2 separate regions of the Homo sapiens genome follow, and region 2 is linked to region 1. Evidence: fine-mapped expression QTL. A gene starts in region 1. The other region holds a variant in brackets. All regions are shown on one strand. Distances are from middle to middle.

Region 1 (9,856 bases):
GCCAGGCTGGTCTTGAACTCCTGACCTCAGGTGATCCACCCACCTCAGCTTCCCAAAGTGCTGAGATTACAGGCATGAGCCACTGCGCCTGGCCAGATTCTGCTTTTTCAAGAAAGGGCTCACAACCATATCTCAGCCAAAAAGTCTTGGGACAGATCAGAGGAAAAAAAATATCTCATATACACAGGAAGCCATCAAAGCAACAAAAGTACTTAAAAGACGACAACTCAAACCTGAATGAACTACATAACTAGGCCCTCGAAAGATCACTGTAATAGTTACTTTTTGTGCCTCTTGTCCTGTTTGTGGACAAAAGCCTTTTAAACTGGATTCTTTCTTTACGAAGAGAAAAACATCCTTATGAAAGCCTATCATCCTTGGAATAAGGGTAAGATGACATTTCCTGCTCTGCCCCTCCCACCTCCCCCATACAAATCAGAAGTCTTTAGCAGTTCTGATGTGGTAAGTGGAAGAGAAGCAACTAGAACATCTTGTTCTGGAACACCTGAGTTACCACTTCGCCACTCACCTTTAATGAATAAAAACTGTGGACTACTTATGACTAGTAAGAACATTTGTAGTGGACATTAACACGTCTTGCCCAAGAGACTGAGGTCAAGGGTTGTATTTATCTTGTTTACAGCTCTTATCACTTAGTAGGTATTTGAGAAATATTTGCTGAGTAAATGAAAGAATAAGAAGGAAGAAAATAATACAGGGTAAGCAATTATGGGAGGAGAGGATAATAATAACAGCAATGAAATTTAACAGAAAAGTAGACCAAAGACAAGCCCAGAGGTTGATATGCTCTCTAGCCTTTAGTTCCTGATAGGAAAATTTGGAACATATGCTGGCTGCCAGTCTCCATAGATCACCCTAAGACTGATGCATGTGTACCACTCTGAAGCATGTAGTTTGAAATTGTCACCTTCTAGGGACAAACTCTAAGACCTGGGAAAGAAAAAGATGCAAAGAAAGAACAGAGAAGAAAAAGCAACACTTTTTTCCTATTCTTGTTCTGCATAAGTGCATTTTCAATGAAAAATTTTAGATTTTAACCCCAACCCATCAGTACTATTGCTAAATTGGAGAACAGTATTGGAGAAGGTGGTGGCATGAAATGTTCCGTTTACATTTACATAAATGTTCTGTTTCTATTCTCAGGGCTATTTTCTGGTTTAAGTAAGGGTGTTTGTCCATTTATAAGCTTCAATAAATTAGAGTACATTTTCATTTCGGAAGTATGCTTGCATTTCATGTAAGGCACCCAGACTCTACAAGCACCTTCATGTGCCTGATAACACTAATCAAGTTCCTACCTATCTAACAAGTAATTGGCCTTGAAAATAAGCGAATCCAGAGTATAATTTATGAGTTTTTATCTTTTCTCTGCTGTGGGCTAAGCTGCCTGAGGTTATAAATGCTTCCCAATCATTTCTAGTGGAAGCTAAACAACAAAAATGAAAAACAGTACTCAACACTCTACACAGAGGGTTCACAAAGCAAACAAAGGAAGTCAAAAAGAGGGGAGGGTGCAGCTGGGTACTTTCTGAAATTTGTATCTTGAGAGTTTTCGATTGGTTAACTCAATATATTGTATTTGAAAAAGGAGGGATGAATGGTTTATTTGCTCCTGTAGTCACAACTTTAAATTTCTTGGTTTCAAGGTCAAGATGAGGTCTTCCTTTTACAGCTTAACTTCAAAGATTTAGAACCGTAAAGGACCTTTACATCACCCAGTCCAAAGATGCATATAGGCCAGCTGAGTTATATCTGACCAACAGATATGGTTTGGTCCATCCTGTGTTGTTGTTGTTATTGTTTTAGTCAGCTGTGAAAATTTAAAATCATGACATTTCATATAAAAATCCTGTCTTGGGAGCATCTCCCGAAAAGTTAGTGGATCTGGCAATACTGGGTCTGAATTCCAACATGGAAACAATGCGCCAGGGCTCTAGAGGGGCTACCTCCTTCAGGCAGGTCATGAAGATTTCAGATTACCATGGTACTCACTACTCCTCAGTATTTCTCTGAGACTTTGTTTTCATTTATCATCTCACACAAGGCTACTGTTTTTTCTTATACTAGGCCTGCTTCATTCATTTATGATACCTGCCTGGTCCCTGCAAGTGTTTGAGTTTGAGACCCATGATTTAGACTAACCCATTTGCTTTACAGATGAGGGAACTCTATATGCCTTCCTGTGAAGCCATCTTCAGAGATTTTACCAAGAACACACAACCAGTCAATGACAGGGGGAAGACTAGACTCCAAATTTCAGGCCACTGTTTCCATTGATATCCCATATTCTCTCTGATAGAGCCTAATCGATTCCTCCCCACTTAAAAATTTATTGATAAAAAATTTTTTTGGCCTTATTGAGGTATAAGTGACAAATAAAAATTATACATGTGTACAGATATGAAATTTTATAAAGGAGTGAGTTCCATCCTTAATTAGTTTCACAGACTTTTTAGTTGTCTAATGATGAGGTATCTTCCCATTGCAACACTCTGACCCATATTCCTCGGCTGACTGCAGTTGTCTGCCTCTCTTGCAATCAAGACAAACTTGGTCCATTCCTTACTCCTGAACTCATAAGTTTTGCAACATCTCTCTACCTTGAAAACCCCATAGCATCCAGATGAGACTGTTGACACAGGTGCCTATCTCGCTAGGATTAAGTGCATTCTTTCCACTTCAAGGCAATCTGAATGGAAATACTTGATACTATTAAATTGTGCTACTGCATCCACATAGAGAGATGAACTGCCTTCCTTTGCCCCCTCCCAACTTCGTATCTTTATTGCAGAAATATACAAAGAGATAAATAGGAAACTGATAAACCGACAGAGAACTGAACTATATTGGGTTGGGGTACAGATTACCACAGATGGTTTAAAATAGTTTCCAGATGTCACATTACTCTGGAAAATTTGAAAATGGCAGTAGCACCAGCCCAAGCAGCTCAGGGTAAAGAAACTTTTATCCAATTTACAAAGCATCCAAAAGGTAGAGTCAAAATTACACACTCAGACCAGGCGCGGTGGCTCACTTTGGGAGGCTGAGGCAGGAAGATCACTTGAGCCCAGTCTACATAACGAGATCCCGTCTCTACAAAAAAAATTTTTTTTTTTTTGAGATGGAGTCTCACTCTATCGCCCAGGCTGGAGTGCAGTGGCACCGATCTTGGCTCACTGCAACCTCTACCTTCCGGGTTCAAGTGATTCTCCTGCCTCAGCCACCAGAGTAGCTGGGATTACAGATATGCGCCACCACACCCAGCTGATTTTTAGTAGAGACAGGGGTTTCACCATGTTGGCCAGCTGGTCTTGAACTCCTGACCTCAGGTGATCCACCCGCCTCAGCCTCCCAAAGTGCTGGGATTACAGGCATGAGCCACCACACCCGGCCTATAAAAATTTTTTTTTAATTAACCAGGCATGGTGACACATTCCTTTGGTCCCAGCTACTTGGAGGCTGAGGTGGGAGGTTCGCTTGATCCCAGGAGATCAAGGCTGCAGTGAGCCATGATCGCACCACTGCACTGTAGCCTGGGAGGCAGAGCAAGACCTTGTCTCAGAAAAAAAAAATTTTTTAAATAAAATTACACACTCTGCAGCTATGGCCTTCATGCACAGGGTGATCACGTCTTGTTGTTCCCATTCTAGTTTACACAGGCCAAATAGCATCGTTCATTGTTTTGGAACACAAGTACATACCACATGTTCATCATGGTGGCATTTAAGATTTCAGGTAAGTTTTCTGAATGGTAGACAGGGAAGCCGAGAGTGGGAGGAAATGAGAGAATTGATTAGAGCCATAGTATCCATCTTGTAAATCTTTCATCTTTCTCTGCCCAAGTCTGGGGTGGGGTTAGGGGGGTAAGGAAAAGATTTAAAAGTTGCTCACCTGATAACAGGTCCCAAGAGGATTAGATGCATAAATAATGATAGCGGTTTATCTTTGGCTAGATCTCTGTGGACAAAAATGAGGGTCAACTGGACCATAATGGATGAAAACATAAAGAAAGAAAAGGTGTATGTCATCCAGTAAGTTTCACTATTCTTTCGATAGATTCTAACCATGTACAAAGCAGATGCAGCCTCCCCACAGTACAAAAAGGTGGAGAAAAGGATGCTAAATGGAAAAGTAAATCGGGGGTTGGCTCCACGGATGACATCTTCCTCCAGAGATGAAACCGGATCCACATTTGGCTCCTCAGGAATTTCATAAACTCTGTCCATTGTCGAGGTTCTTTCTGAATGTTGTGGTCTTGTGTTCATAGCACCCTCCCACCCATCCCCAAGAGAACCCTATGGCCGCTACAGTCCAAGTATAGGTGAGGAGAGCTCTGTCAAGTCCAGTTTGGGAACAGAGATTCACTAGTTAGAGCAAGAAACCGCTCTCTTCTAGACTCAGATTCGACTTGGAGTCTGGGATGGAAAGCCCAGGAGTACCACTTTGAACTTGACTCTTGATTGGCCCCGATTCCAATCGTCAACATACTTGCTGTGAAACTTGAACAAGACAAAAGCAAGCATCCCAGCGCCCCATCCAGAGTCCAACTCCAGGGACGTGAAGAGTCATGAGAACAGCGGCTTCCGTGGCGGCTCCTTTCGCAGCCCCTCAGGCAGGGTGTAGCCGATCTGTCGGGGGCACCGACACTCAGCAGCTCCTCACAAAGAGTCCTGACCAGTGTGTCCTCTCAAGTCAGCGGAGAGCTGAGCCAGGGCAGAAGAGCGGGCGCAGAAGAAGGAGGGCAGAAGAGGGGATTCAGTTCAGTGCCTAGGTATCCTAGCTATTGCTAGGCTGTAGCTATCAGCTGGCCCGCTCACCTGCGCGCTCTCAGGACCTTTGCCGAGTCCAGGGTTCTCAGGATAGCTCCTCGGATTCCCCCAAGCCCCGCCCCCAAGACCGCCTGGCCCGGGAGTGGAGTATTGTCACCACCCTGTCTCCGAATGCAGTGTTGAGGGACAGAAGCAGAGCGCGCTCGCTCTACAGGATGAAGAAAAGGCTGGAGGGGCTGCTTCTCCTCGGAGAAACTTTGCTAGTGAGAGGCACGATGTGCGGGGCGCCAACCTGGCTGGACGGAGGTCGCCAAACTCTTGGACGCCGTCTGCTGCCAGGGTCCTGCCTGGTCTGCGATTCCAGCTGCGAGAGGTCGGCAGCTTCAAAAACTAAGGCACCGGGACGGCGGGGGCGGGCGAGATGGGCGGGACGGCTGCGGCCAAACAAAACCAGCCGGAGAGTTCCCGGGCAGGCGGCCAGCCGAGGGATGCTCGTTGTGGAGTGGCGGGACAAAAAGGGGCTTGGGCCGCTCTTCAGAAGCACTTCTGACCACCACCTCCAGACCCAGGCAGGAGCCACAGCTTTACTCCTCCCTAGGAGCAGCAGGCCCCCACTTCTACCCCGCCCTCCCTAACTAGTTAAGTGACTTGCTTCAACACTCACTCTACCCACGCTGTTAGGCAGGTGTGTCTCCCTCCGCCGCAGGGTGGAACCTCCCTAGGTCCTATTGCCCTCCAGATAATATCATGAAGGGGGAACCTGGGAGGAATAGGGTCAGAGTTTTCGGCGGAGGGAAGATAGAACAGGATAAAGGTCAAGACTCAAGGTCAGCCCACAGACACTGAAAGCTCATATTTTATGCCTTGATTTCTCCACTTGCAAAATGAGGCCAGGATAGGAGCTTTAGAATGAACTTACAGGTCTTTGGTTGAAAGGTTATGAAGAGGTGCCAAATTCTAAACAGACTGGCAAAGAGCCAAGAGAGAGCTGTTAGTAAAAACTGAGAGGGGTGTCTTAAAGAGCTTTGAAAATTACCTGTATTCTTAAGTGTAATCCTCCCCACCTCACTGAGCTTTTGTTTTCATATCTTCATTTGCATAATTCTAAACCTCAGAGAAAAAGAGAACACATCTGCCTCCTGGTAATAATATAGATGAAGGCCAGGCACAGTGGTTCACGCCTGTAATCCCAGCACTTTGGGAGGCTGAGGCAGGCAGATCACTTGAGGTCAGGAGTTCGAAACCAGCCTGGCCAACGTGGTGAAACCCCATCTCTACTAAAAATACAAAAATCAGCTGGTCGTGGTGGTGCGTGACTGTAATCCCAGCTACTCAGGAGGCTGAGGCAGGAGAAAAACTTGAACCCGGACGGCAGAGGTTGCAGTGAGCTGAGATCACGCCACTGCACTCCAGCCTGGGCAACAGAGCAAGATTACGTCTTAATAATAATAATAATAATAATAATAATAATAATAATAATGATGATTATGTAGCAGAGCCTGTGCCAATCTCCTTTTGCTGCAGGAAGTCAGTAAAACAAATCTATGTGAGGAGTGGCCAAGTAGCAGCCACCAAAATAATGGCCTCCAGGTTGTCCTGTCATTATGTTGTTTTTTGTTTTTTTAAGGTTTCCATGATTGCTGCCTCCTTTCCCCAGGGCTGATTCAGGGACAGATTCAACATCTAAAGGTTGTCACCTTCTGAAGCAGACTCCGCATCTTGGTCTGCACCTATGCTAGCAGCTGGGCTAGGAGGCTGCTCCTTTCTCCTTTCCATTTCATGAAGGAGGTCAACACTATTGAGAACAACTTCAGAGAGTGTTCTTTTTCTTATTAGTTGGGACATTCCAACTGGGACAAGGTTCTCCACCACCAGTATATGGTGCAGAACCTCTTGGGGCTGCTCTAGGTAACTGTTCACAAGGTGAATCTCAGGCAAGGTGACCAATTAATCCCATTTCACTGGGATAGGGTGAGTTGGTCCCCCTAAACATGAGAGAGTCAGCCGGGCGCGGTAGCTCATGCCTGTAATCCCAGCATTTCGGGAGGCCAAGGTGGGTGAATGGCCTGAGATCAGGAGTTTGAGACCAGCCTGACCAACATGGTGAAATCCTGTCTCTACTAAAAATTCAAAAATTAGCTGGGCGTGGTGGTGGGCACCTGTAATCCCAGCTACTCGGGAGGCTGAGGCAGGACAACCCCTTGAACCCAGGAGGCAGAAGTTGCAGTGAGCCAAGATAGCACCATTGCACTCCAGCCTGGGTGACAAGAGTGAAACTCCATCTCAAAAAAATAAAAATTAAAAATAAAAAAAAAAAAAAACATGGGAGAGTAAAGCTAAGAAGAAGAATGTAGAATCCCAACGTTTACCTTTTAGCCTTTCCTCCTTCTTCTCCATGGCCTTGTCTCTCCCCAAATACAAAAATTTACAATGCCTTCCTACTTTGTTCCAAAATGACTCCTTCTGTCTGTCATTCAAGGCTCTATATAATCATCACACTACTTCCCTCTCAGATTTTATTGCCCACACTACTCCTTCCACAAGGCCAGCCAGTTTTCTCACTTCTCCTATTTGCGTTGCTCACTCCCACCTCTGCCTTGTTGATGCGATTTACAACCCCCTTCACCCTTTTCTCCATTAGTCCAAACCATAACTTTCTTTCAAGGGTCAGCCGAAGTGCTCCCACCTCCAAGAAGCCTTCTGTCACCTCCCCAACCCTCATTTTTCTCTCTTCATGCTACTGGCACATGCTCTCTCATACTAGTCCTTCAACTATTTCTGTGTTTGTCCTGCCTCCCCCCAAAAATGTAAAGTTAGTGAGGGAAGGATGCTCAATGACTGTTTATTGTGGCACTTGTTGATGACAATGGTGATTGACAAATGGTGATGATGATGACGCTTCCTCCCCCATACTTCCTCCTTGAAACCATGCAAGACTCAGACACACTCATCTCTAAAAGCTGTGGCCACTGTAGCTGGGGCATAAACTCCTCTGGCTGAATGAGCACTGTCTCATTCAGCCATCAGCTCACAGAGGTTCCCAGACCACATGATCTGTCCCTTCTCAAGGATTTCTATAGCATTCTTTTGTTTATACCAGAGTGTAGCACCAAAATTATTTCAAGTATATTAATTTTTATTCCCCAACTAAATTATCACGGGCTCCTTGAGGGCAGAGCCCTTATTACTGTACTTTTGTTGGACTCCCCCATGACTGGTATAGACCTGTAAAGTTCCTGTCATCTGATCACCCTCACCCACCAACTTCTCTATTTTCAGCCCTAGGATTCTCTGGCGCTTTAGGTCACTAAATCCTCTGGTCTCTTATTTCCCCGTTCCTTTGCCCTGCTGGGAGTAGCTAACTGAGAATTTGCTGTTTCTGTCCAAACACTCTTTGCTCTCTCAGGCCATCTCAAGATTCCAGCTCTTTACTCTTCTTGGGACTAAAGATGCTGGAAATGTTGGCAGTCATAAGGCTGCTGAGGCTCTAGGAACCCCTGTCCCATTAAAAGCACTGATCTCCCACAGACTAGTCATCTGAGGTGACACCTAGGCTGCCTCCTGAATGCCAGGTAGTGTTCAAGCATAAATTTCTCCTCCTGAGAAGCACTAGAATTCTGCAAGAAAGGGGAAGAACAAGATCTGACTCCTTACCACTCTATTTCCAACCACTGACTCAACAGGAACAAAGAGCGCATCTAAAAGCCATGTGGTCTAAAAGCTCTTGGCATCTTTATCAGCATTCAGAATCCCTCTATAAGGCTCAGGGATGGGGTTGAGCTTTCCAAGCCTCTGCAGCCTGAAGACTGCCCAAAAGCCTCCAAGGAATGGATGTGTAAGAGGTGCGTGGCATCCATGAGGAAAGAGGAGAGGAAGGACAGAGATGTGCAGCAAGTGGCTGACAGTCCAGTCACAGAACACTTATTGGTGGGAGGTGATGGGCAAGGCCCAGAGAATCAATAGCCAGAATGGAAGATGGCTTCCCTCTAAAGAATGCTCAGTTTGGGCTGTTAGAATGCTTAAAAGATATCTAGAGGCCAGGCATGGTGGCTCACACCTGTAATCCCAGCGCTTTGGGAGACTGAGGTGGGAGGATTGCTTGAGCCCAGGAGTTTGAGACCAACCTGGGCAACAAAGTGAGACCCTGTCTCTACAAAAAAGTAAAAACAAAATTAGCTGGGCATGGTGACACACACCTGTAGTCCTAGCTACTCTGGAGGCTGAAGTGGGGAGGATCGCTTGAGCCCGGGAGGTTGAAGCTGCAGTGAGTTGTGACTGTGCCACTGCACTCCAACCTGGGCAACAGAGCAACTCTGTCTCAAAAAAAAAAAAGAAAAAGAAAAAGAAAAAAAGCCAGGCGCAGTGGTTCACACCTGTTAATCCCAGCACTTTAGGAGGCCGAGGTGGGTAGATCACCTGAGGTCAGCAGTTCAAGACCAGACTGGGCAACATGGTGAAACCCCATTTCTACTAAAAATACAAAAATTAGCCAGGTGTGGTGGCACACATCTGTAATCCTAGCAACTCCGGAGGCTGAGGCACAAGAATCGCTTGAACCCAGGAGGTAGAGGTTGCAGTGAACCGAGATTGTGCCATTGCACTCCAACCTAGGTGATGGTGAGATTCCGTCTAAAAAAAAAAAAAAAAAAAAAACAGAATGCAAAATCAGTCGTATCATCTAGGTCTTATTTTTCTTTTTGCTATAAACTCCCTGAGAACAAAGACCCTTGCCTGTTAGTTCTGAGCCACTCCCTCATCAGTATCATCCATAGCTGGGATTTGGGCCTGGAGTTAAAACAGAAGTAACTTCCCTGCAGCCCTCACCCCTAGCATTTTTCTTCAACAAATCTGGTTAGAAATGACATCTAAATTAGTCTTGAAGGGAAAGAAGTGCTGCCACATAATGCAGCATGGCATTTGGGATGTTGGGTGTTGCCAGGCAGCTGGCAAGCTCTATTTATATTGCCTGGTGGAAGAGAAGGGTCAGGGAGGGGAATATAATGATATTATTTAATTTTTTAAATAATACTCTTTATTTGGAAATAACTCATATGCCATACAATTCA
Region 2 (9,856 bases), 45 kb before region 1:
CCTCCCTCTCTTGGGCAATGCCGGACACACTAAAAACTTCTCACCATCAAGACATTTATGTGGCCAACAAACATACGAAAAAAAGCTCATCATCACTGGTCATTAGAGAAATGCAAATCAAAACCACAATGAGATGCCATCTCACGCCAGTTACAATGGTGATCATTAAAAAGTCTGGAAACAACAGATGCTGGCGAGGATGTGGAGAAATAGGAATGCTTTTACACTGTTGGTGGGAGTGTAAATTAGTTCAACCATTGTGAAAGACAGTGCGGTGATTCCTCAAGGATCTAGAACCAGAAATACCATTTGACCCAGCAATCCCATTACTGGGTATATACCCAAAGGATTAGAAATCATTCTACTATAAAGACACATGCACGTGTGTGTTTACTGCAGCACTATTTACAATAGCAAAGACTTGGAACCAACCCAAATGCCCATTAATAATAGACTGGATAAAGAAAATGTGGCACATATATACCATGGAATAGTATGCAGTCATAAAAAAGAATGAGTTCATGTCCTTTGCAGGGACATGGATGAAGCTGGAAACCATCATCCTCAGCAAACTAACACAGGAACAGAAAACCAAACACTGCATGTTCTCACTCATAAGTGGGAGTTGAACAATGAGAACACATGGGCACAGGGAGGGGAACATCACACACTGGGGCCTGTTGGGGGGTGGCAGGCAAGGGGAGGGAGAGCATGAGGACAAATACCTAATGCATGCAGGGCTTAAAAACTAGATTATGGGTTGATAGGTGCAGCAAACCACCATGGCACATGTATACCTATGTAACAAACCTGCACGTTCAGCACATGTATCCCAGAACTTAAAGTAAAATAAAAATAAGTTAAAATAAATAAACAAAACTTCTCACCATCAACCTCCCTTTTTTGTAAATTCTCCCAGAATTGCTTTCCTTCTGTTGGCTCTAGACATTATAATAGTCCCCTCCACCCTGTATTGCTTCACCTGTCTTAATGTTTGCATTTCCCAGGTTTATGGATTATGCGGCATTGACTAAATTTGAGGTTGCTTCCTGGAGATCTCTAGGGAGTACTTAAATGTCATCAGTAACTTATTCACAGTTTTACCATAGACTGCAGTCTTTTGGAAAGATTTCCTGTAGACGGTTGATCCCACCCATGGTAGGTGGATTCTTGCAAACTGTAAACACAAAGCCCTTACCTGACCTGCATGTTGTGTCTTCTCCCTGATCACTTGTGTCTGTCCTCATTTGTCCCAAATTTGCCTTTACAGTTACAACTCTTGTACACCTCTTCCAGGAATTAATATATAACAGAGAGTGTTGAATTACTTAACAGTTTAAACATGTGCTTAGGACATCAGAAAAAATTGTTTTGAGAATTATTTTAAGAATTTATAAAAGAATTTGATGGTTGGTTTTCAAAAACAAAAATTTAAGTAGTCATGGGGAAAATGATAGTTTGTTTTACTTATTTTATTGTTTATAATTACGTTTAATTTGAATCCATAGAGGATGGTGTTGGGAGGACATTCGTTTATTTATTTATTTATTTACTTATTTTAATTTTATTTTTTTTAAGACGGAGTCTTGCTCTGTTGCCCAGGCTGGAGTGCAGTGGCGCGATCTCGGCTCACTGCAAGCTCCGCTTCCCGGGTTCACGCCATTCTGCTGCCTCAGCCTCCCCAGTAGCTGGGACTACAGGCGCCCGCCACCGCGCCCGGCTAATTTTTTTTGCATTTTTAGTGGAGACGGGGTTTCACTGTGGTGTCGATCTCCTGACCTCGTGATCCACCCGCCTCGGCCTCCCAAAGTGCTGGGATTACAGGCGTAAGCCACCGCGCCTGGCCCATTTGTTTCTTTTAAATCTTAGAGCCTTTAAAGGTATTAATTTGGTCTTGATTACAGCGTCCAAAAATGAAACATCCCATAATGATAAGAGGGACTGATACATGTGGAATTATTTGAAATCAATTCTTTTTACTATGTTGGAGCAGAACCAGACCTCACCAAAGTAGCACCTTGTAAAGGCAATATGGTATGATGGAGCTGGATTTGACCTCCAGCTCCCCACTCACTATTAATGCTCCCTTGGAAAAGTCTAACTTTGCTCAGCCTCAGTTTCTTCATCTGTAACCTAGCGTACTGATCCCTCATGGAGAAAGTGTTCAAATTGTAGCCTATATTGATAGGCAGAAGGCAAAGTGGTGGTACGGAAGAGATGGTAGAGCAGTATGGTGTACTGGTTAGATATAGATTCCAGAGCCAGTCTACCTAGGTTTGAAGCCTGCCTCATTATCCATAAAATGGGTTGTTATAAGAATTAAATGAGTTAAAGTATGGAAAGCAATGAGAACACTGCCTGACATATAAAAAGCACTCCATAGTTGCTTGCTATAATAATGATGATGATGATGAGCCCTAAGAAAATATAAGCAGAGGACCTAAACTCAATGGTACTTTCTTTTGCTATTGAAAAGGGGAGCAGAAACTATAGATCAGAGACCATTATTATACAAACTTTGTAAGATTATGAAACTTTTGTCACTACCTTATGTCCGTCGGTTTTACCCTGTTTTCTCCAGAGTTTAGCAAATTTTAAATGAGCCTGTGTGCTTGGCTTCAATAGTAGCAAGAAACTGGGAAGGTGCAGAGTTTGTGTCTCATTCTGCAGCTAGGCTTGGGGAGTAATTACCAAAGAAGAAAACAGGTGGTATCCCCATGGCCATAAGGAAGAAAGAACACTGGGGGTGGCCCTAGGCCTGGAAAGGGGCCTGGGGACTCAATGATGGAAAGGTTTATGTAGTTCCCTGTTCTCCCTACTTCCATCACAGGGCTGTGGTGAGCATCAAATGAGCTGGTATGTATAACAGTGATTTTTAGGCCAGTAAGTATCATGGAGACATCACTAGAATAGCAATGAGTACTTTCATGTTACATCTGCTACTTTGGAAATCTGCCCTCAAAAGTGTATATGTGAGACTTATTCAGCTCAGAAACAATATTCAACTCTTGCCTTTTCTTGAAGACCGATTAAGCTCTGCCTCTTCCAGGAAGTCTTCTCTGACCACCTCAGTCATCATACCACACTGTCTTCCAATTTTTATAGCATGACATAGCATGAGTTCCTCATCTTCTTACCTCTCTCATAGCCTGTGAAACCTCCCATTGTTATTTACCCTTTTCTGAGCAAGTCCTATCTTATCCAGATTGCTCCTTAAGGCAGAGCACAAAGCTCTCTATGCACAGTAGATGTTCAATAAACATTTGTCATGTGATGGTGTGGTAGGCAGAATAATAGCCCCCTAAAGATGTCCACATCCTAAGCCTGTGAATACGTTACCTTGCATGGCAAAGGGGAATGAAGGTGGAATTAAGGTTGCTAATCAGCTGACCCCAAAGCAGGGAGATTATTATGGATTCTATGGGTGGCCTAATGTAATCACAAGGATCCTTAAAAATGGAAGAGGGACACAGAAGTCAGAGTGATGAGATATGAGAACATGACCCACTCTTACTGACTTTGAAGATAGAGAAAGGAAGCCAGGAGCCAAGGAATGTGGGCTGGAACTTCTCCCCCAGAGCCTCCAGAAAGGAATGCAGCCCTGTCAGCACCTTGATTTTAACCCAGTGAGACCCAATGCAGAATTATGACAACCAGAACCATAAGATAATAAGTGTGTGTTGCTTTAAGCCACCAAGTTTATAGTAATTTGTTATAGCAGCAATAGGAAAGTAATACAGATGGTAAAGAAAAGACTTTCCTGCAACCATATTTACTGGCTCTGAACTGACTACTCTGCCTGGGAAAGAAGATAAGCCGGGTGCAGTGGCTCACACCTGTAATCCCAGCATTTTGGGAGGCCGAGGCGGGCGAGTCACTTGAGCTCAGGAGTTTGAGACCAGCCTGGCCAACGTGGTGAAACCCCATCTCTACTAAAAACACAAAAAATTAGCCAGGCATGGTGGCGGGCACCTGTAATCCCAGCTAACTACCTGGGAGACTGAGGCAGGAGAATTGCTTGAGCCCTGGAGGCGGAGGTTGCAGTGAGCTGAGATCACGCCACTGCACTCCAGCCTGGGTGACAAAGCGAGACTCCGTCTCGAGAAAAAAAAAAAAGAAGAAGAAGATAAAGTCACAAGTTTTCAGAGCTAAAGGTTGACAATGTACAGTCCCTACCATCAGCATAATGTGCTGTGGATAAATGCATTGGAACTATTTCGGTTGCAAGTAAAGCAGTGTGTAAATGATTGGCCTTTTAAATAAGGAAATGCAACTGCTTTAAAAAAAAATCCTTTTCCTTTGTTGTATTAGGAGCACTTAACACATTCTTAGCGGAAGGGACCTCTCCCAGAACAGAATGCAAATATTTGCCCTCCCTTCCGGAGAGTACAAGATGAGACAATTTGAATTGTGAAGACTGAGCCCTCTTTGCAGTTAAGAAAAATATTTTCATGGTTAAGACTTTGGACGCTGCTTTGAAGCTCTTAACCATGGGTCATCAA[G/T]GTCTCTCAGTAAAAAAAAAAAAAAAAGAAAAAAGAAAATAAAAAGATAAATTGGTTGCTTCCCTTACTTTGGAATTTCAACCACTTTGGACATAACCATGAAATAACTGGTCGTTTAACAGTTTCATGGTTCCATTTCTAAAATAAGACAATGTTGCTTTTAATGGGACCAGAGCAGATGAGAGGCAGAGCAGAGTGTAAGCAGGTCAGATTGGCAGTTATCTAAGTAGGTTGTATGGATTTTTTTTTCTGAGAAATTAGAAATTCTATTCCTCCTCTCCAAACCACTAAAAAATAGCCTTTCCATTAGTGTGTTATAAGGCAGAAAAATTTTACCATTTGGAATTTTTCCTTTGAGAAAAGCTTTGTTCCTGAAAGCTATAGTTAAATTCCATTGTTACCTTGTGGTGGTGGAGGGATGAGTGGACTTGGTCTTCTGTCCAAGGGAGAAAGAGAAATAACTCATCAACCCACGATCACCTGTTGCTCATTATATTTTCACTGAGAGTAGGGTCCAGAGAGAAACACACCTAAGAGAGGTAAACTTGAAGGTGAGGTAAAAACAGAAAGATTTGTAGCAGGGGCATCTGACAAGAATTAATAGTTAGAATGGGATACTGCAGCAGTGGACTTTGAAAAACAGGAGTGCATTGGGCATTTGGAGGTGGGCTGAAGCCAAAGTGGGTGCCCAAGTGGGGAAGCTTGGAGATGCATTTGATCCATCCAACAATGCCCTCCCCTGACCTACTGAATCAGAATTTTCATTTTAGTAGGACCACCAGGTGGTTCATACCCATATTAAATTTGAGATGCTTTGTCCTAAGGTGTCTGCAACTCACAAGGGCTTAAAAACTACTGACTTAAGCAGGTTTGGAAAAAGATTAAATAGAAAAAAGTTGGAACCTGATCTCAGAAAATTGTTAAATTAAATTCTTTCTTGTGTTCATTTAAAGATTTGTCTTTTAAGAAACAGTTTTTAAAAATCAACTTTTCTCTCCTCCTTTGCTTAAATCTTCACAAACCACAAACAAGCTTACTTTCGTTATTGCAGGAAAAACCTGAATTTACTTGGATAAACATCAAAGGTTCCTGTTAGAGTCCTCTTTTGATCATTCAGAAGATATGAAAGCAAACAATAATCAAAAAATCCCCAAGAGACTTTGTTTAGATATCAATTTGTCTTAGTAATTGTCATAAGTCATATAAGAGCTGGGAGGCAGCAGGCAGGAGGTCATTAGGTTCACCACTCAATTTTCAGGCAGGTCAGAACTCGAAGTGGACAATTCTCTTTTGAAAAACCTCTGAGGAACAAAACAGCCATTGCTCTGACTTAAAGCTCTTACATTCAGAAATCTCAGCTAGAAGTCAGTTTAGGGCTGGGTGGGGTGGCTCACACCTGTAATCCCAGCACTTTGGGAGGCCGAGGTGGGCGGATCACGAGGTCAGGAGTTCAAGACCTGCCTGGCCAACATGGTGAAACCCCGCCTCTACTAAAAATATAAAAATTAGCTGGGCATGGTGGTGGCACGCCTGTGATCTCAGCTACTCAGGAGGCTGAGGCAGGAGAATCGCTTGAACCCAGGGGGTGGAGGTTGCAGTAAGCCGAGATTATGCCATTGCACTCCAGCCTGCGTGACAGAACAAGACTCCGTCTCAAAAAAAAAAAAAAAAGAAGAAGAGGAAATCAGCTTAGGCTGTGTGCAGTGGCTCACGCCTATAATTCCAGCACTTTGGGGAGGTCAAGGCGGGTGGCTGACCTGAGGTCAGGAGTTCATGATCAGCCTGGCTAACATGGTGAAACCCTGTCTCTACTAAAAATACAAAAATTAGCCAGACGTGGTTAATACCTGTAGTCCCTGTAGTCCCAGCTACTCGGGAGGCTGAGGCTCGAGAATTGCTTGAACCTGGGAGGTGGAAGTTGCAATGAGCTGAGATCGCACCACTGCACTTAGGCCTGGGTGACAGAGCCAGACTCCGCCTCAAAAAAAAAAAAAAAAAAAAAAAAGGAGTCAGCTTAGTTCCCTAGTCTTTTCTGAGCCTGTTAATCTAATGGAAGGGATCACCCTTTTCTGTCTCATAGGTGGTCCAGCCAGGCCCATTAATGTGTGCCTATCGGGCCTGAAAAGAGCTAGCTAGGCTGGAGAGAGAGCAGGTGATGGACAATCTTTGAGTAAAGATTGACAATGTGTTTCTGTCTTGGAACTAACCTCTCTTCACTCTGATTTTTGCTACCATTAAGTAGTTTCCTGGTAGTACAAGAAGAGAGAAAAAAGGCAACTGTGGGAGAGAGGAGTATTTTATTGTTTTATAATTGGTCTCTTAGATAGGTGTAGTTTATTTCAAAGGGGGAAAATGAATGTCTTTAGGAGTTTGAAATAAGCTGTATTTTCTCAGTGGAAACTTGATTCTACTGGATTTTTTAGAGACTCAATTGGAGAACAAAGTGAGTGTTCATTCAATGTTCATTCAACATTTATTAAATATTTAATTTTGAACAGGCATTATGTTAGGAGCTAATGATACAGAAGTAAGTAAGACAAACAAGTTTCTTGTCCTCAAGGAACTTATATTCTGGTGGGAGGGACAGATAAAAACAACTGAAAATAAAAGTATTTCAGGTAGTAATGAGTGCTATGAAGAAAACTGAAACAGGAAAGGGAGTAGGGAATGATGTGTGTGAGGTAGAGAGGCTATTTTATTTTTCTCCTTTAATGGAAGCCTATCTTTATGCTCATTAAAATGCTTTCTGATATGGTCATTTTTAAAAGGCCGCCCAAACACTTCAAATCTGTGGGTTTATGGAGCAGCATTAGCCAGCAGCTAGTTTCTATTCCTGGCAGAGCTTTGAACTTGAATTGTGATAGAAGCATTCAACATAATCAGGGGTAGTGGGTAAGGAAAGTCCAAATCTCTGCCATTCCCAAATCCATAGAGTTGTCATTTCATTCAAGAGAATTAAATTGTTTATTGATTACACATGATAATGGATGATACACAAGCTTCATTCCCATCTATAATTTTATCTGGTACCATTATTCAATTTAGATATATTGCATAGGATGTGCCAACAATCATTTTTATAACCAATAATTCCATGATTTTGCTTGGGTAGTCCCTTTTAATGGTGAACTTCAGGTCACAACAGTAACTATCAATTCAATTACACCAAGGTTTCTGAAGACAATGGCTTCTCCACCCAAGCAGGTTGTATGTAAATTCCAAATAGAACCTGGCATCACCCTGAAGGAATTCCAACTTCACACTGCTGGGGAAATTTACCAAGATGGCTTCAGAGTAGACTAACTTTACACAGCACATTAAAAAAAAAAAGACATTTATTCAGCGTCACGATCAGACTATTACATTTAGCAATCAACAACATGGGTGCAAGGAAAAAAATCTACATTAAAACCCTTTGTTGAAATGCTTTACACTTTCCACAGAACAGAAACTAAAATAACCTGTTATACAATTAGTCACAAATACAGTCCTCAAGTTTTTTGCCCATACACATGAATATTTGTCTAAAATATGTCTTCTTTGTAGCAGCTAGGCCCTGTCACCACTGTGCTTGGCTGAGTTCACGAATCTGTTGTAAACTGCAGCTTCCCTGTCACTTCTCTGGCTCTCCTCTCCTGCTAAGCTCTGTTTCCTAATTAACATCTTCTGCCACTGCCATAGCTACTGCTGCTACTGGAACCACCATAGCCACTGTGGTTTGGTGGTTTGGCAAAGTATTGGCCTCCGCCACCATAGGGGCCAGAGCTTCTGCCCCAAAGTTTCCTCCCTTCACGGGTCCAAAATTTGAAGACTGACTGTTGTAATTGCCAAAATCATTGTAGCTTCCACCACCTCCAAATTGCTTCCATCATTACCAAATCCATTATAGCCATCCCCACTGCCACCATATCCACCACCACCATGGCTGCCACCAAAGCCACCACGACCACTGACGTTTCCTCCATGACCAAAGTTGTCATTCCCACAGAAACCACCTCCACAACCACCACCAAAGTTTCCAGAACCACTTTGACCTCTTTGGCTGGAAGAAGCACTAGCCATCTCTTGCTTTGACAGGGCTTTCCTAACTTCACAGTTGTGGCCATTCACAGTATGGTATTTCGGAATGACAATCTTATCCATGGAGTCATGGTCGTCAAAGGTTACAAAGGCAAAGCCCCTTTTCTTGCCACTGCCTCAGTCATGATTTCAATCACTTCCATTTTTCCATGCTGTTCAAAATAATCTCTTAGCTGATGTTTTTCAGTGTTTTCTTTAATGCCACCAACAAATATCTTTTTCACAGTTAAGTGGGCACCTGATCTTTGATAATCTTCTCTTGAGACAGTTCTCCTTGGTTCCACAACTTTTCCATCCACCTTGTGTGGCCTTGCATTCGTGGCTGCATCCACCTCCTCCACAGTGGCGTATGTAACAAACCCAAAGCCCCTGGAGCGCTTGGTGTTTGGATCTCTCATTACCGCACAGTCTGTGAGCATTCCCCATCGCTCAAAATGGCTCCTCAGGCTCTCGTCGGTTGTTTCAAACCTCAACTCTCCAATGAAGAGCTTCCTCAGCTATTCGGGCTCTTTAGGAGACTCTGACTTAGACACGACGGAAGGGAGAAGAGAGACTTTAATGATGCTTCTTTGTTGGCATCCACAGGCAGAAAGGAGCAAGCTGACAAACGTATCTGGAGAGGCTATTTTAAATAGAGTGATCAGGGAAGTCCTTTTTGAGAAGGTGGCATATGAGATAACATGTGTATGCTGAGACGGGAACAGCCAGGCTTCTTTAGGGTTCTAGACAGAAAGACTTGCCATGTACAAAGGACCTGAAATGAAAATCAGCTTAGTGTGCTAGAGGAACAGCAAGAAGGCAAGAGTTATATGTTGAATTGTGTCTCCCCAAAAATTCATATGTTGAAGACATAACCTCTAGTGCCCTAGAATATGACCTTATTTGAAAATAGGGAACTGGCTGGGTGCAGTGGCTCATGCCTGTGATCCTAGCACTATGGGAGGTTGAGGTGGGCTGATCAAGTGAGGTCAGGAGTTCGAGACCAGTCATGGCCAACATGGTGAAACCCCATCTCTACTAAAAATACAAAAATTAGCCGGGCATGGTGGTGCGTGCCTGTAGTCCCAGCTACTAGGAAGGCTGAGACACAGGAATTGCTTGAACCCGGGAGGTGGAGGCTGCAGTGAGCTGAGATCGCACCACTGCACTACAGCCTGGGTGACAGAGCAAGACTCTATCTCAAAAAAAAAAAAAAAAGAAAAAGAAAAAGAAAAAAGAAAATAGGTACCTTATAGATGTAATTAGTTAAGATGAGGTCATACTGGAGTAGGGTA

The links. PIP is the estimated chance that this variant, and not a neighbour inherited with it, causes the effect.
Region 2: its variant is the best candidate, but not a certain one, in a credible set for the expression of XKRX in lung (TOPMed, PIP 0.75).

The regions. Positions count from the first base shown.
Region 1 is chrX:100,924,058-100,933,913 of GRCh38, forward strand. XKRX (XK related X-linked) reads right to left here and starts at 4,860. Exons shown (of 3, transcript NM_212559.3): 1 at 3,913-4,860. The coding sequence starts at 4,247. RefSeq lists enhancers at 3,064-4,263, 5,457-5,506.
Region 2 is chrX:100,879,477-100,889,332 of GRCh38, forward strand. It overlaps a transcript of XKRX not described here and the pseudogene HNRNPA1P27. Among named protein-coding and RNA genes, the nearest start is that of NOX1, 10 kb to the left of the region's middle. The variant G/T (reference allele first, on the strand shown) is at 4,503.